Linked DNA regions of Homo sapiens: region 2 is reported to be linked to region 1. The links are microRNA targets in miRTarBase. Many come from high-throughput screens and were not tested one by one. Region 1 holds a microRNA gene; the other region holds the end of a gene's coding sequence.

What was found. Region 1 holds the annotated microRNA hsa-miR-580-5p (UAAUGAUUCAUCAGACUCAGAU, at 4,417-4,438, opposite strand). A microRNA usually pairs through its seed, bases 2 to 8, with sites in the 3' UTR of a target mRNA and lowers its output. Matches are read on the target gene's strand: a 7mer-m8 pairs with bases 2 to 8, a 7mer-A1 pairs with bases 2 to 7 and ends in A, and an 8mer does both.
Region 2: miRTarBase lists TNR as a target of hsa-miR-580-5p. The part of its 3' UTR that is shown has no 7-base or 8-base seed match.

What each region holds. Positions count from the first base shown.
Region 1 is chr5:36,143,530-36,150,881 of GRCh38, forward strand. MIR580 (microRNA 580) reads right to left here and starts at 4,459; the gene lies at 4,363-4,459. The region is part of intron 1 of LMBRD2 (LMBR1 domain containing 2); the gene reads right to left.
Region 2 is chr1:175,317,322-175,324,673 of GRCh38, reverse strand. It overlaps TNR (tenascin R), which reads left to right. Exons shown (of 23, transcript NM_003285.3): 22 at 155-318; 23 at 1,198-7,352. The coding sequence ends at 1,317. LOC105371623 (a long non-coding RNA gene) reads right to left here. Exons shown (of 4, transcript XR_001738302.2): 2 at 3,553-3,692. Among named protein-coding and RNA genes, the nearest start is that of KIAA0040, 130 kb to the right of the region's middle.

The DNA of each region.
Region 1 (7,352 bases):
ACATTGGACTATGAATAAGATTAAAAGGGTAATTCCTATCCTCAAGTACTTATATTTTATTTTTAAAGCACACTTAAAAAATTTCACGTACCTTGTATTTTCAAAAACTTAACAAAAATTATTAGTTCTTACAATATTACAAATTAAGAAGTTCTTATTTTAGATGTGAACAGTTTTAATACAGTGTCATCTGGAGTTTGTTTCTTAATATTATAAGTCCTAACAGAATAGTTTATGCAAATAAGCTGTTAACTAAATCCTAGGAAATTAGATACTTAGTAAAATACATTTTACTAAGATTATTCATCCTCTATAATTTAAGATTTTCTAAAAGAGAGGAAGGAAAAAACGGAAAGAGACCATTTAAAAGTAACCTTTTGTTTTTTGAAATAGTATTTTTCTTTTGTGTTAATTTCACCTAACAACTCAACTTTCATGAAATTCTTACTCACTGCTTTACAAAATATATTTATCACTTCCATTTATCTACATAAATCTTTAAACTTACTTTGATAAATTCTCATTTTTAATTTTTCTACTATTTTATATGCAGAAAATTTATCAATGACTATTAAAGTCATACATTTGAAAACATTCTTAATTTTATGATACAGTCATCAGCGAATAGTTTACTTGATATCTCTCTACTCAAAAAAGTTAGAGTATAGAGATTTAAAGTCTCTATTTTAAAATTGAAAAATTTGATATCTCTCTATACTTAAAAAAATTTACTAATCAAAGGCAATATGAACTTTTTCTCCTTTGTAAAATCAATGTTAGACTTTTGTTTATCTACATACTACAGTATTTCAAGGAATTGATTAATATCCTAACACAGAGAATCAAGAGTGTGATCAACCCAACAAAATAAAATAAGGGGCAGTGGCTCACACCTGTAATCCTAGCACTTCGGGAGGCTAAGGCAGGCGGATCACCTGAGGTCAGGAGTTCATGACCAGCCTGGGCCAACATGGTGAAACACCATCTCTACTAAAAATACAAAAATTAGCCAGGTGTGGTAGCGGGTGCCTGTAATCACAGCTACTCAGTAGGCTGAGGCAGGAGAATCGCTTGAACCTGGAAGGCAGAGGTTGCAGTAAGCCGATATCGTGCCATTACACTGAAGCCTGGGCAACAAGAGCAAAATTCTGTCTCAAAATAAATAAATAAATAACAAAATAAGGGAGAACCAATGAAATACTTCAAATCAACAAACATCTTTAACTAAAACTATTTAGAATAATAGAAAAGACAATTTAAGTACTTTAAATGGTTAAATTTAAATTTATATACAAAATACTCCTACATGAACTATCACATAGAAAAATCACATTTAATGAACAATTTTCTTCACTATTTTTTATATTGGTAAACAGTTTCCATTTCAACTGTCAATATTTTCATTTTTCTTAATTATCTAAAATTGAACTTCTTTCATCAATCTCTACCCTCTTATCCTGCTATATTTTCCTTCAATGCATTTATTCATCTGATATAATACACATTCTTTATATTTATTGTCTCTCCACACCTCTCCCCTTACCCCAGAGACTCTATGAGAGCAGAGACTTGACTATTTTATTCCATACTATATTCCAGTTGTCTGATGTAGTTAGTACCTGGCATACAGTAGTATCAAGAAATATTTGTTGAAATAATAAAAAATACTGTGTAGTTTAGTACATACACTATTTTTCTATTACTGACGACTTCAAAGGCAATGTAAAACTCGTGTAATGGTAAACTGATTTAACAAATACTTATTACAACTCAAAAGGCTTAAAACTCTGAACATTACCAAATACTACTCAAATTTTCAAATTTCATATTCTATGAAACAACTTATACCACAACAAAGTCAAATCTTATGTTTTAAAAAATAGACAAGGTTTTGCCATGTTGCCTGGGCTGGTCTCGAACTCCTGAGCTCAAGTGATCCACCTGCCTCAGCTCCCAAAGTGCTGCAATTACAGGCATGCGCCACAGCGCCCAGCCAAATCTTATTTTTAAGCTAAGCATAGATTAAGTAGTTGGCTGAAAGCTCAATGCAGAATGTGCTGATAACAAAACCATCTTCGAGATCTAGGGTTTTTTTTCTTTAAAAAAACCCAATTGATGTGAGTTTAAATATAACATAATTAACTGAAAATCCTTTTATGACTTGAACTAGACCTGAAATTGTCCAGTGCAAGGAATATGACAATCATACAAAAAAAAGACTAAATATTAGAGATTACCAAAGAAATGCTAAATAAAGCATGGCAGAGCCAAATGATGAAATATTATTGTAGTATAAGAAATAATGTTTGTTAAGATTATTTAATAACATCAGAAAATTACCCTAACAGCAATTGAAAATTTGGCACATATTTTTACATAAGCATAAAAAAGAGTAAGGTAACAATGAAATATATTAAAACATCAATAGTCTTTAGGTGGTAAGATTATGGGCATAATAAGCAAACAACAAAATCAGTTATAAACCTGACACTAGCTATTAATTTTTTTACTATGGCACTCTGTTTTTCAGTCTGATTCATAGTCAGCACTTTAAAGGGTTGTAGATGAAGAAATAGAATTATGGATCCTTTATTCTAGTAATAAATGATTTGGTTACATACCTTCCCACACTTCATGTGTTAGTATCTTACCACTGCTGTAACAAATTACTACAAACTTAGTGACTTTAAACAACATCCATTTAGTATTAATATCTTATAGCTTCTGTAGGTCAGAAGTTCAAACATAGCATAGTTCAACTTAGTTCTCTGCTTAGGGTCACACAAGTTTAAAATCAAGGTGTCAGCAGGTTTGCATCTTTCTCTGAAGAAGAATCCATTTCTAATCTCATTCAGGCTACTGGCAGGGTCTCACACTGTCGCCCAGGCCGGAGGGCAGTGGCATGATCATGGCTCAACATAACCTTGAGCTCCTGGGCTCAACTGATCCTCCCACCTCAGCTTCCAGATAGCTAGGACTATAGGTGCACACCACCACGCCTGGCTAATTTTAAAAAAAAATTTTTTTTGTAGAGACAGGGTCTTGCTATGTTGCCCAGGCTGGACTCAAATACCTGGCTGCAAGTGATCCTCTCACCTTGGCCTCCCAAAGCACTGAGATTTCAGGCATGATCCACCTAGCCAAGCCAAAACTCAGTTCTTTATGGTTATAGGACTGAGATCCCTGTTCCCCTGCAAACTGACAGCTGGCATTTAACCTTAGCTCTAGAGGCCTCTCCCCAGTCTTTGCATGTGGCTCTGTATATGTTTTTAAATTGTATATATTTAAAGTGCACAACAGTGATGTTTTGATATACTGTACATATACAGTGAAATAATCACCATAGTCAAACAAATTAACATATCTATCTCCTCACTCACTTCTCTCTCTGCGTGTGTGTGTGTGTGTGTGAGTGTGTGTGTGTGTGTGTGTGTGTGTGTGTGTGTGTGTGTCTGTGGTCCTGAATATTTTAGAAGCAGCAATGGCTTGTCAAATTCTTCTCACACTTGAAATTTGTTTTACAGGGCTTATCTGATTACACTGGGCCTGCCTGAATAATTTCATCATTTTTACTGGTTCCAGAGATAAGAGCATAGACATTCTTAGGGGTTTATTATTCTGTTTACCATACCATCTATTTCTGTTGAGGCCGAACTATATTGCCTTATTATGACACAGATTAGGACCAGTGATCCCATGAAACTGGAGATAAAAATTGGGGTTTTCCTAACTTGAGAAAATAATAGTTTCAAAGTCCATATCTTTAACCTTGTGCCAACATTCAAGTGATGAGTTGCAAGGTTTAGGGAAGAAGGAGAAGAAAGGGGATGATAATGATGATAATGATGATGATGGTGATACTAAAATGGGGAGGTAAATAAAAATTCAGTTCCATGTGATTAAGCACCACAGTAGCAAAACTTGATTATACTCGAAATCAAAATGGCAATTCATTAAAACTACCAGATTTTAGTGCCCGATGTGTGGGCATATCGTACCCTTCAAAACACCAGTTCTGAAAGTCTTAAACATTTAAAATCCAATTCAATCTTTTTCCAATCATCAAAATATTATTCAATATTACTTTCAAATGCCTTTATAATGGTTTCACAATTAGCGTGTTAATGTTACTGACTAATGTTACTGACTAAAGTACTGTTTCCTGAGTACTTTACGGCTGATAATAGTTTTTCAGGCCAAATACCCTTTGATGGAACTTCAGAGGTTAAGATAATTTTGTAGTTTGAAGAATTCCAAATGTTTTGAGAGAGAGAGAGAGAGAATGGGTACCAAGTGATCAGAACACAAACAAAACACTGACAACAATTTTGTCAAAACCAAAGATTCTGAAACTGAATGAAAAATTTCTGACCGGAACCTAATGATTCATCATTCTCAAATACTGTTAACTTAAATATCTGAGTCTGATGAATCATTAGGTTCCAATTGGAAATTTTATCTAACTTCACATATCTGTATTTTTACTCAGATATGTGCAAAATAATAAAAACCAGGAGACAACTCAAAATCCTAATTATGAAAAATCAAAAGAACCAGAATTAGAAGTGAATGATTAAGTCAACAATTTTCCACCAATAATTAAATTTAAATCTTCCAAACATAATCGTTATTCACATATTTAAAGATTTCAGGTATGAGAGAGTTCAGTTTAGGACACAGACTACTGCAAGAGACTATTACTCCCACTCGAAAAATGAAAAAAAAAAAAAAACCATCATAATATTTTTTAAAGGTACCTAAGAGCTGAGTTGGCGAACCAACCAGGTAACCTGAATTCCAAAATGTGACAAGCCCCTGAGGACAGTGGCATACTGTCCTGCTTTACCTTTTGCAAGGCATGAAGAGAAGAGGTAGCAATCATGTAAGCATATAAGAAAAAAGAACTAAAATTTTACTGAATTCTTAAAGATTTCATACATAGAAATTGCAAGACATTTTGATAGAGAATAATCTGTAAAGTCCTTCCTAATAATAAAATAATTTCAAAAAACGAATAGCTAACATTTAGAATGTGTTCACTAAATTTTAAGCATTGTATTAATACTAGTACCTGCCAAGCTTTATCAAATTAGACCTCACAACCTAGTAAGAAAGGGCTGTTCGTTTCCTTGCTTAACAGAAAAAAAACAGTGCAGAGAGGTTAAGTAACTTGTCCAAGTTAACAGAGCTGGTGAATGGTAAAGCTGGGATTCAAATAGAGGCATCTTTACTACAGAGCCTGGATCATAATTACATGTCTCTTCTCTAATCTAGACATAGTTTCTTAATGCAATTTAAATTGCTTAATGATTTATTTTGTTCAGTCTTCACAGGGAACAAATTAGAAACTTTCTCCCATTTCTTTTAGATATATCAGGACAGAATGCTTAGTCATGTTTAATAAAGAATTTAACGCAAACTTTTTACATTACAGATTATACTACTATTACTTGATTTAAGGGTAATATATGACTGTACTCTACATGGGAAAAGTGGAAAACATAGAGTAAATTAGAATCCGTTTGTTCTTGCCCCAAGCTGCCTATCTTAGAGCATTAAATTACAATGAATTAAAGATCTACTTAGTTCCAAGCACCATTCATTCATTTAGCAAATATTTACTGAACGCCTACTATATGGTGAGCTCTGTTCAAGGGGCTGGAGATAGAAAAATCCAAGCAAAGTCCCTGCCCTTAAAAAGTCTAGTGGGAAGAAACAGGCAATTAAAAAAAATACATTAGGGGGTGATAAGGGTTATGTAAACAGGTAGCTGCCACCACCACAGAGACTATCAGTTCTGGAAATACATTATTCAAGATTAGTTTGGCTACACATAACAGAAAAGTCCAATATAGTACAGACTTATACAATGCAGAATTTATTTCTCGTGTAAGTCTTGAGATAGGTGGTTATGGCAAGTTAGCAGATTATCAGAGGCCCAGGCCCCTTCTATAGTCCACATCCTTAGCAGGTGGCTTTAATCCTTATGTTCCAGGACAGATGCTGGAACTCCAGGAATCCTATCATCATCTAGACAGCAGGATGGAGAAACAAAGAAGGGTGGACCGTCTTCCTTTTAAAGAGATGTAAGAATCGGCTGGGCACGGAGGCTCACGCCTGTAATCTCAGCACTTTAGGAGGCTGAGGTGGGTGGATCATCTGAGGTCGGGAGTTCGAGACCAGCCTGACCAACATGCAGAAACCCCGTCTCCACTAAAAATACAAAATTAGCCAGGCGTGGTGGCGCATGCCTGTAATCCCAGCTACTCAGGAAGGCTGAGGCAGGGGAATTGCTTGAACATGGGAGGTGGAGGTTATGGTGAGCCGAGATTGCGCCATTGCACTCCAGCCTGGGCAATAAGAGTGAAATTTCTTCTCAAAAAATAAAAATAAAATTAATCAGAAAAAATAAGATACATCAGTAGCAATCACAATGCAGTTCTTTATGACCAGATAGCAACCTCTATGTACCTACTAATCTCGTCTTCAATGGACACAATTCCTTACGTTAAAAAGAATCTAATGTACCAATTTAAACTTGCATTTATTATATTAAGGCAATAGTCATGATTAGAAGGAAGGCAAAAAAAAATTATTCCCATATTAGGAAGATGAAGTATGTCTGTTACCGGGGCAAACTATCAAACTGAATTTCAAAACTGACAGGCTCTCCCTGAAGTCCTAGAGAGGATCTTGTGTTCACTAATTCAGATGTTGCAAGTATTCTAGTTCCCAGGTAACTCCTAGTAAAACCAAGACTGAACAAAGATATTTCTCATCTTTAAATTTAGAATCATCTCATCGATTAAACCTTCCTATCTATGAGATCTATATCTGAAGTGGGCTCTCCCAATTATTTTACATCTCAAAACTGTTTATTCTCATTATGGCATCTTAAATATTTTTGTTTATTCTTTCTCCTCCATTAGCTTACAGGCTCTCTCTGTTTTGTTCCCTTTCCTGAAGGAAACTATAATTTTTTGTGTCAAAAATATTTTCTCCTATGAGTTGCAATCTTCAGGGAAAGGACGTAGCTTCAAACAAAGGCAAATGCTTTCTCCTTAGCCAAAGTAACATAAAGGTCACTTTCTGTAAAACATCAGGATATTGCATTTTAAAATGCTTTCCATATAACATTAGTTTGATGAACGGCTTAGCCTAGGATTCTGCACCTAGTTCCAATCAAAACCAAGTTGTGAACAGATCCCTTCTTTACACCAATCTCATCTTTCAAGAACGAGCTAAAGGTTCATGAATTCCTTCCTCAAGAGGCAGTTACTTTTCAAGCTAAGGACCAAGCTTGAAACAAGCATATACCTGCACAAGGGAGGTTTAATTTCACTACAGAGCGA
Region 2 (7,352 bases), not on the chromosome of region 1:
GTAAGAGTTCAGCACAGCCACTCTGAGAAACTGGGTGGAAATGAAAAGGTTCCATAAGTGGAAGCCAGGTTTGCTGGAAGTGGGTCAAGTGTCCAGAAAATCCTGATAAAGCAGTGACAAATGGGACAGCCTAATGAATGTATCTTTTTTGCAGGGGACTCCCTCAGCTATCATCAAGGACGCCCTTTCTCCACAGAGGATAGAGACAATGATGTTGCAGTGACTAACTGTGCCATGTCGTACAAGGGAGCATGGTGGTATAAGAACTGCCACCGGACCAACCTCAATGGGAAGTACGGGGAGTCCAGGCACAGTCAGGTAAGCGATGCTCCACCTCTGCTATGAATGAGCCAGAGCTGTGGAATCCGTGCTCCCTTAGCTTTATATTTTAAAAGCACATGTGAGTCCTTCATTTCCCTTTAAAAAGAAATATTTTGAGTCTTGAGAAAAATAATGCAGACAATGGGATAAGATCAGGACAGAGTAGAAGCCAGAGGAAGGAAAGGAAAGGACCCAGGAGCCAGAACTTACCCAGAGAAGCCCTTGGATCCAGAAGATCCCATGAAGAGAGCTTATCAGTCCTGGGGACAGCTTCACAGACTCAACTTTACCCTAAAAATGGTCCCAGGAAGGTAGACATCGAAAATACCAGTGTGAACTGGACAATCTTTCCCTATCAGAGACCACAAGTTTATAGGCTAAGCTGGGTGACAGGGAGACCACCATGACCAACTAGACTTTCTAAGTGTTAACACTGAAACAGCCCACATCAGGGAAGCCCTTCAGTTCTAGGCAAACCAAAAGGGTTTGTCACCCTAGGTAGAAACCGCCTAAGTCTCCCATTAGGAGTGAGCAGTCAAACACAGTTATTCTCTTCCAAATGCTTCCACCCTGTTGGGATTTCACAACCATCTACTGGTGCATGCCACTCCTGGAAGCCAAAAACAAAGCTGGCAATAAGGAATGACCTGCAACATGTTCCCTGGAAAGACCCAGGCCACCGGCACATTTAAGGAGAAAGCTAGAAAGAGACTCTGCCCCTTTCACTTTATTGGGAACTCGGCCTTGAAGCTTCATGTTAGCTGAAAATAGCTAACCCCACATTGTGGATTCCCTGTTCCCATAATTACCCCTTTTTTGAAGTGGGGCGTTCCATGGTGGGGGATGACCTGACATGCTTATCTTTCTCACGCCCAGGGCATCAACTGGTACCATTGGAAAGGCCATGAGTTCTCCATCCCCTTTGTGGAAATGAAGATGCGCCCCTACAACCACCGTCTCATGGCAGGGAGAAAACGGCAGTCCTTACAGTTCTGAGCAGTGGGCGGCTGCAAGCCAACCAATATTTTCTGTCATTTGTTTGTATTTTATAATATGAAACAAGGGGGGAGGGTAATAGCAATGTGTTTTGCAACATATTAAGAGTATGTGAAGGAAGCAGGGATGTCGCAGGAATCCGCTGGCTAACATCTGCTCTTGGTTTCTGCTGCCCTGGAGCCTGACCCTCAGTCTCCATTCTCCCTCCTACCCAGGCCTCCTCAACCTTCACCTCCTTTCCCACCAAGGAGGAGAAGTAGGAAGTTTTCTTAAAGGGCCAATTCAAAGCCAAGTCGTGGGGTGCAGATTGTTATGGTGACAGGCACACACATTTTTCTACCCTTCTTCTGAGATGTCCTCTGCCTTCCAGGTATTTGTGATTTTGTCACAGCCTGACATGGCCAGGTTCTCACACTGGCCCAGAGAAAAGAGCCTCAGCAAGAGAGTTTTGCCAACAATTCCCCTTAAAAGGAAACAGATCAACTACACCGCATCCCAACAACCCAGGTTCTTTTCCTTCCTTCCTTCCTTCCTCCCTTCCTTCTTTCCTGCCTTCCCTCCTTCCCTCCTTTCTTTCTTGACAGTATCTCACTCTTGCTCAGTCTGGAGTGCAGTGGTGCAATCTCAGCTCACTACAGCCTCGACTTCCTGAGCTTAAGTGATCCTCTCGTCTCAGCCTCTTGAGTAGCTGGGACTACAGGCATGAGCCACCATACCTGGCTGATTTTTCTTTTATTTTTTGTAGAGATGGGGGTCTCACTGTGTTGTCCAGGCTGGTCACAAACTCCTGGCCTTGAACAATCCTCCCACCTCAGCCTCCCAAAATGCTGGGATTACAGGCTACAGCCACTGCATCCAGCCCCAAGTCCTTTATAATGGGCCAAAGATTCTCATCTTCTGACACTCTTATTATACCAGCCACATGTCCTGTTACCTTTCAAGAACAGTGGCTCTTTTCTGGCCCTGATGGAGTCTTTTGCCTAATCCCATCCTGTCTTAGACCCCAGAGCCTCAAAAGCCCAACCAGCATTTTGGAATCTAGTTCCCAAGGCATTGCCTGCTCCTGGCCCTGGGTGGCACAGTGGCTATGTGCCTGTGAGTCATCAGCCACTGCCCCCACCCTCAGGTCAGACAGACAGTCACTTTCTGCAAAGGTAGGAGGGGGAGATGGTTGTAGTTTTTAGCACTTTTGGGTCAAGCATTGAGGAAAGGACTGAAGAAGTCAAAATCAGGGCACTGCCATAGAGATTATAGTTTCCATGGGAAACACAGATCTTCCCTAGCCCTGTTTTCTCCATTTCTGGTCCTATTTGTCACAGATTCTTTTTTTCTGAATTGCAAACCGAAGGCCTCATATCTATCTTCACCCAAGCCCTCCTTAGTGTAGGTGGCTTAATAAGAGTCAGGAGAAGAAGGTATATGCCCAGAGAGCTATACCCCTGACTGATAATCCTGGAAAGAGGTTGATTTTTTTTTTCTTTTTTGGTCCTATGGGAAACAGGAATGACCTTCTTAATGAGGTGAGATCATGAGAAGCCTTTCCATCTTCTTTTATTATTCTGCCTTGCAAAGGAAAAATGACAATAGCCAAAGGAAATTACATCCAGAAATCCAAAGGTGAATAGGTGATAACTGTGGGCCTACTTCCCATTTTATGAGATGCACTGTCTTCACTAGCACAATTTGATCTTAAGCCCAAGAGAGCTAGATGCTCTAGAAGCCGTGACCTTTCAATTTCTCCTCCAAATCCAATATCAGCAACCATCCCCGCAACATCTGCCCAGATCCATGCCCAGTTCCCTGAGCTGTCTTCTCCCTTTCCTCTCCCATTCCTCAAGGCCCAGCACCATTTTCTGTAGTGCCTATGTTTGTCTGACCAGAGCAGTGTGTACCTTTGCCAACCAGTTACTGGATGAGCCTTAGTGTCGGCAATTTTCTAATGGAAATATCCTCACTCTTACCAAGCTTTGAGAACCAAGATGAAAAGTCCCTTGGGCTGACCATCAGGCCTCGGACCTCATGGGGATGCAGCCAGCCACCATTGAATGGAGGCGCTTCCCTTGCCGCAGGCTTCTAGGCTTTGTTCACTGCGGCAGTGTGGATGTGACAGGCATAACCCTGAAAAACCTAGGCACCACTTGCATTTCTCAGTTAACCATGGGCTTCAACAAACTGGGAGGAGGAAAAAACAGAAACAGATCCTTTCAACAAGCATGTAAATTACAGAAGACTTACCTAGAGACGGGGCAACAATGAATAGTAGGAAGCACATTGCATGGGAAACTTGAGGGCCGAGGTACAGGCCAACAGCTGTCATCTTAGCTACGACATGACATCGGCTGGGTTGTTTCACCTCTCTGGGCCAGTTTCTTCATCTGTCAGATGAGAGATTAGACTAGAATGAGTTCTAATTTCCCTTTCAGTTTTGACGGTCAATGATGCTAATCTGTGATCTGAAAACCTAAGTAGAAATTGGCATGGTGGGACAGCACAATTAGGTAATGAAAATTCACTAGACTCCCTGTTTAATGAGGAAAGAAGGAAAGAAGGAAGGAAGGAAGGAAGGAAAGAAGGAAGGGGAGGGAGGGAGGGAAAGAAAAGAGAGAGATTGATTCAGGAGTCATAAGTAAAACACACACACACACACACACACACACACGAAAATACTGCAGAAAAGATCATGCCGAGTGAGAGGCTGAACTCTTTTTGTCCATAAAAACAGAGACCAGGTACCTGGGTGGTGCCAGCACGCCCACTTCATCAAGGAAGTTGAAATGGAAAAAGATTATGTGTTGTCAATTCAGGTGAAAGTCAAGAAACATCAGTGGAAACAAAAATCTTCCTTTTATTGAAACCATTCTACACTATGGAACATTTTTATAAATAGTACCAGCGGCATTGCATAGCTTTATTTTGAAGCAAGAAAGAGACTTCAAAGATCAGCTTATTCAACCCTCTATAAAAGGATTTATAGATTCCTTTTATTTAATAGGGTGATTTTCTCATGAGTTTTCACCATGTTTAAAAGACACTGTGCCCCACTCTCATCCCAAGGTCTATGGTCAACTTGACTCAATGCTCATAACTTTCCTCGCTGATTCCTGCTTATCCTGCTCCTCCAAGCACAACTGCATTTCCCAAAGGTAGATCCAGTAAGCAATACTCTCAAAGCACCCACCCTATGCACACCAGTTTCCCTCAAGGGACTCAAAAGGAATCGAGGTAGACCCTTCTCAGAGGCTGTTTAACTACAGACACATCAGGATATGTACTAATACCCAAAACCAAAACCACCACCAATGACTGCAATAGATTCACTGTCTAGACCCAAGGTCCAGGCAGTTTCCCTTTTTTGCATTTCCCCAACATATAAAGATAATTTCCAACATATCAGATGCACATTCACCAGGGTTATTTCTGGAAGGTGAAGGGGTCAGGTGTAGAAGAGGTGGCAAGAATGACAAGTCTGTGGAAAACTGTTGGCCTTGAGACCACAGTGAACTGGTGGAAGGGGACTTGCTAAGTGTGGCCACAAGGTGGCAGTCACCTCCTGAAACCCCGTGTGAAACGTCAGCGGGGTTGAGAAAGGCCACGTCTCCAAGTTTCCAGGAGAGCCAAACCAGGACTCAGGAAAACCGGCCAGCTGATTTGTATGGGAGATTGATTTGTAAAAGAACAACAACAACATATGGCAGCAAGGAAATGCAAAGCAAACATCTACAAATATTTGAATCCACCTGTCCCTCACCTACCAACTTCCCCCTCTACTACTCATAAAGTGGTAGGACTCCTAATGCCCCGCTTCCTTCCACCTGAGAACCAACCAGCACCCTGATATTTCAAAGCCAGACCTAAAGAACCATGGTTGCCAATAACCTCAATGCCAAACCAAACAATCCTAATCACATTTTTACTTTTCAAATCCAGTCTCAGAGCAGAGCTGTAGATTAAGGGACAAAAAGTCATTGTGGAATCTTTTCAAATAGCTCTTGTAAAAGCATCAGTTGGGAAAGAGTTTATGAGTTCCTCTTTGTCCTCTCCTCTGGAGAAAAGACAGAACATGCAAGAACACTAGATACACCAAGCTATGGGTGTTGAAATAGACTAGCTGGTGACCTGGATTTGCAAATACCCTAGGGACATGAAAACATTTTTTCTTTTTCTTTTTCTTTTTTGTAACCTCCACCCAGAATTTCAGGAAAGGTGGGGCCACATGCCCAGGATATATGGTATTCTACTGCTTGCTTTCTTATCACCAGAATACTAGTCAATCTGATTTCTTAGTTCCATGTCTTTTCTTCCAAGGAGGTAGGGCATGGGGTTGGGGGACACTTTCCGCCTTCCTTGCATCTCACTGTCCACTCTTAAATTTTTATTAAGAAACCTCTGAAAGATTCAAAATTCAGTTCAGTTTCAATAATCCCAAAGAAGTTGGGATAATTTGTTTTCACTTGCTTCAAACTTGCCACGGCTGCAGGAGGAGTCTCAGGACCTCAGAGGAATGGGGCAGATGTGTGAAGTCTGGGAGTCTGCCTCCCACCCAGATGCCAGGAGCTGCATACTCAGCTCTGCCTCACTTCCCTGATGGTCTGCTTTCATCCAGGTTACCATGACAGAGAGGGTCTATCCTCTAAAGAAAGCTGAGTTACAGGCTGGCCCCTGGGGTTGTTCCTGTAGCCTCTCTTTGACCACATTCCTGAAGATGTTTAGCTGAATGCCTCCTCAAACCTTTGCTTCTTCCATAACCCAATCCTACACATATGTGATAAAGCTTTCTTCAACAATACTGGGTCATTTGGACACTACCAGTCCAGATGAGAACTCACAGACCAAATGAAAACTTTCAAAAGCAAGCAGGGAAAGTAACTCCTATATGCTTTAAGATGATGTATTGGTGTAGATTCAGGTCCAATTTGAAAAAATGTCTCTGGTTCTTTCTAATTGTATCCACTCTGGATTTGTTTATGCCAGTTCTACATTCATCAAGCCTTGAGAAACAGGTGGAAAGAAGAAAAATATAAAATTAAGAAGAAGCTGATGGATCATTGGAGATTCAAAACAAGCCTTCTACCGGTGGCACCACACTGAAAGGCAGAGACAAGGCAGGAGCGGCCATGGGAGAGGAAGCAGCATTGGCTTCTCACGTTCTGGCCTCCAGCCTCCCACCAGAGCTTCTGCCATTCACCCACTTAACTTGAGGAGAAACTAAGGCACCAAGGCCTGTCACTGCACCGAAAACCAGAAGCAGAAGGACTTTCTTTCTTTGCTCAACCAGTTCTGCCTGGATCTGACTTTTGCGTCACCAGTAGTCACAAGCCTGATTTGTCATCTCCAGCATTCTGTTTATTTTTTTAAGGTCAATCTTTGCCTGAAACATGACTTCATTGCACCTGCAGCACTTCATTGTCCAAATGTCCTTGGCAAACCTCACAGTCTTTGGACAGTGTTGCATTTTCTCCAAAGGGGAAATCCTCTCTCCTTCCTCAAGCTTAATAAGGCTCTTGCAGTGCATCCAAATAACACAGCTCTTGTTCCTCAGACACACTCAGCCCCCTCTGATAACTTCATAAAACAGCTCCTTATTGTCTGGGCCATGAAGCCAGGCTAATGCTAAAGTTCCAGTTCAAAAACATTTAACTCTATTATCCTTATGAGGCCAGCTCTCCTGGGTACTGGCACTCACTCACTGGCACCATGGATTCAGGTCAGGTGGTGCAAACATCTTCCCTGAGAAGCAAGCCATACACCCAACAGGTCTAGAACACCTAGGTCACAAGAAAGGGTTTCAGTCCAGATGCACTGTCAGTAAGTGAACACAAGGACAAGAATGCATGAACTGTTATTTTCTTCCCATCACTGGTTTAGCAGCCCCTAGGGAGACCCTGTGTTGCTCTTTAATATTCTGACATGGAGCACTAATATGCTCAACACTGCCTCCAACAGGCAAATGTTGGAAATACACTTTCAGAGCTGGATGGGACTCAAGATCATCTAATATAATCCTCTCATTTTATTTCCTCTCAAGGAAACCAAGG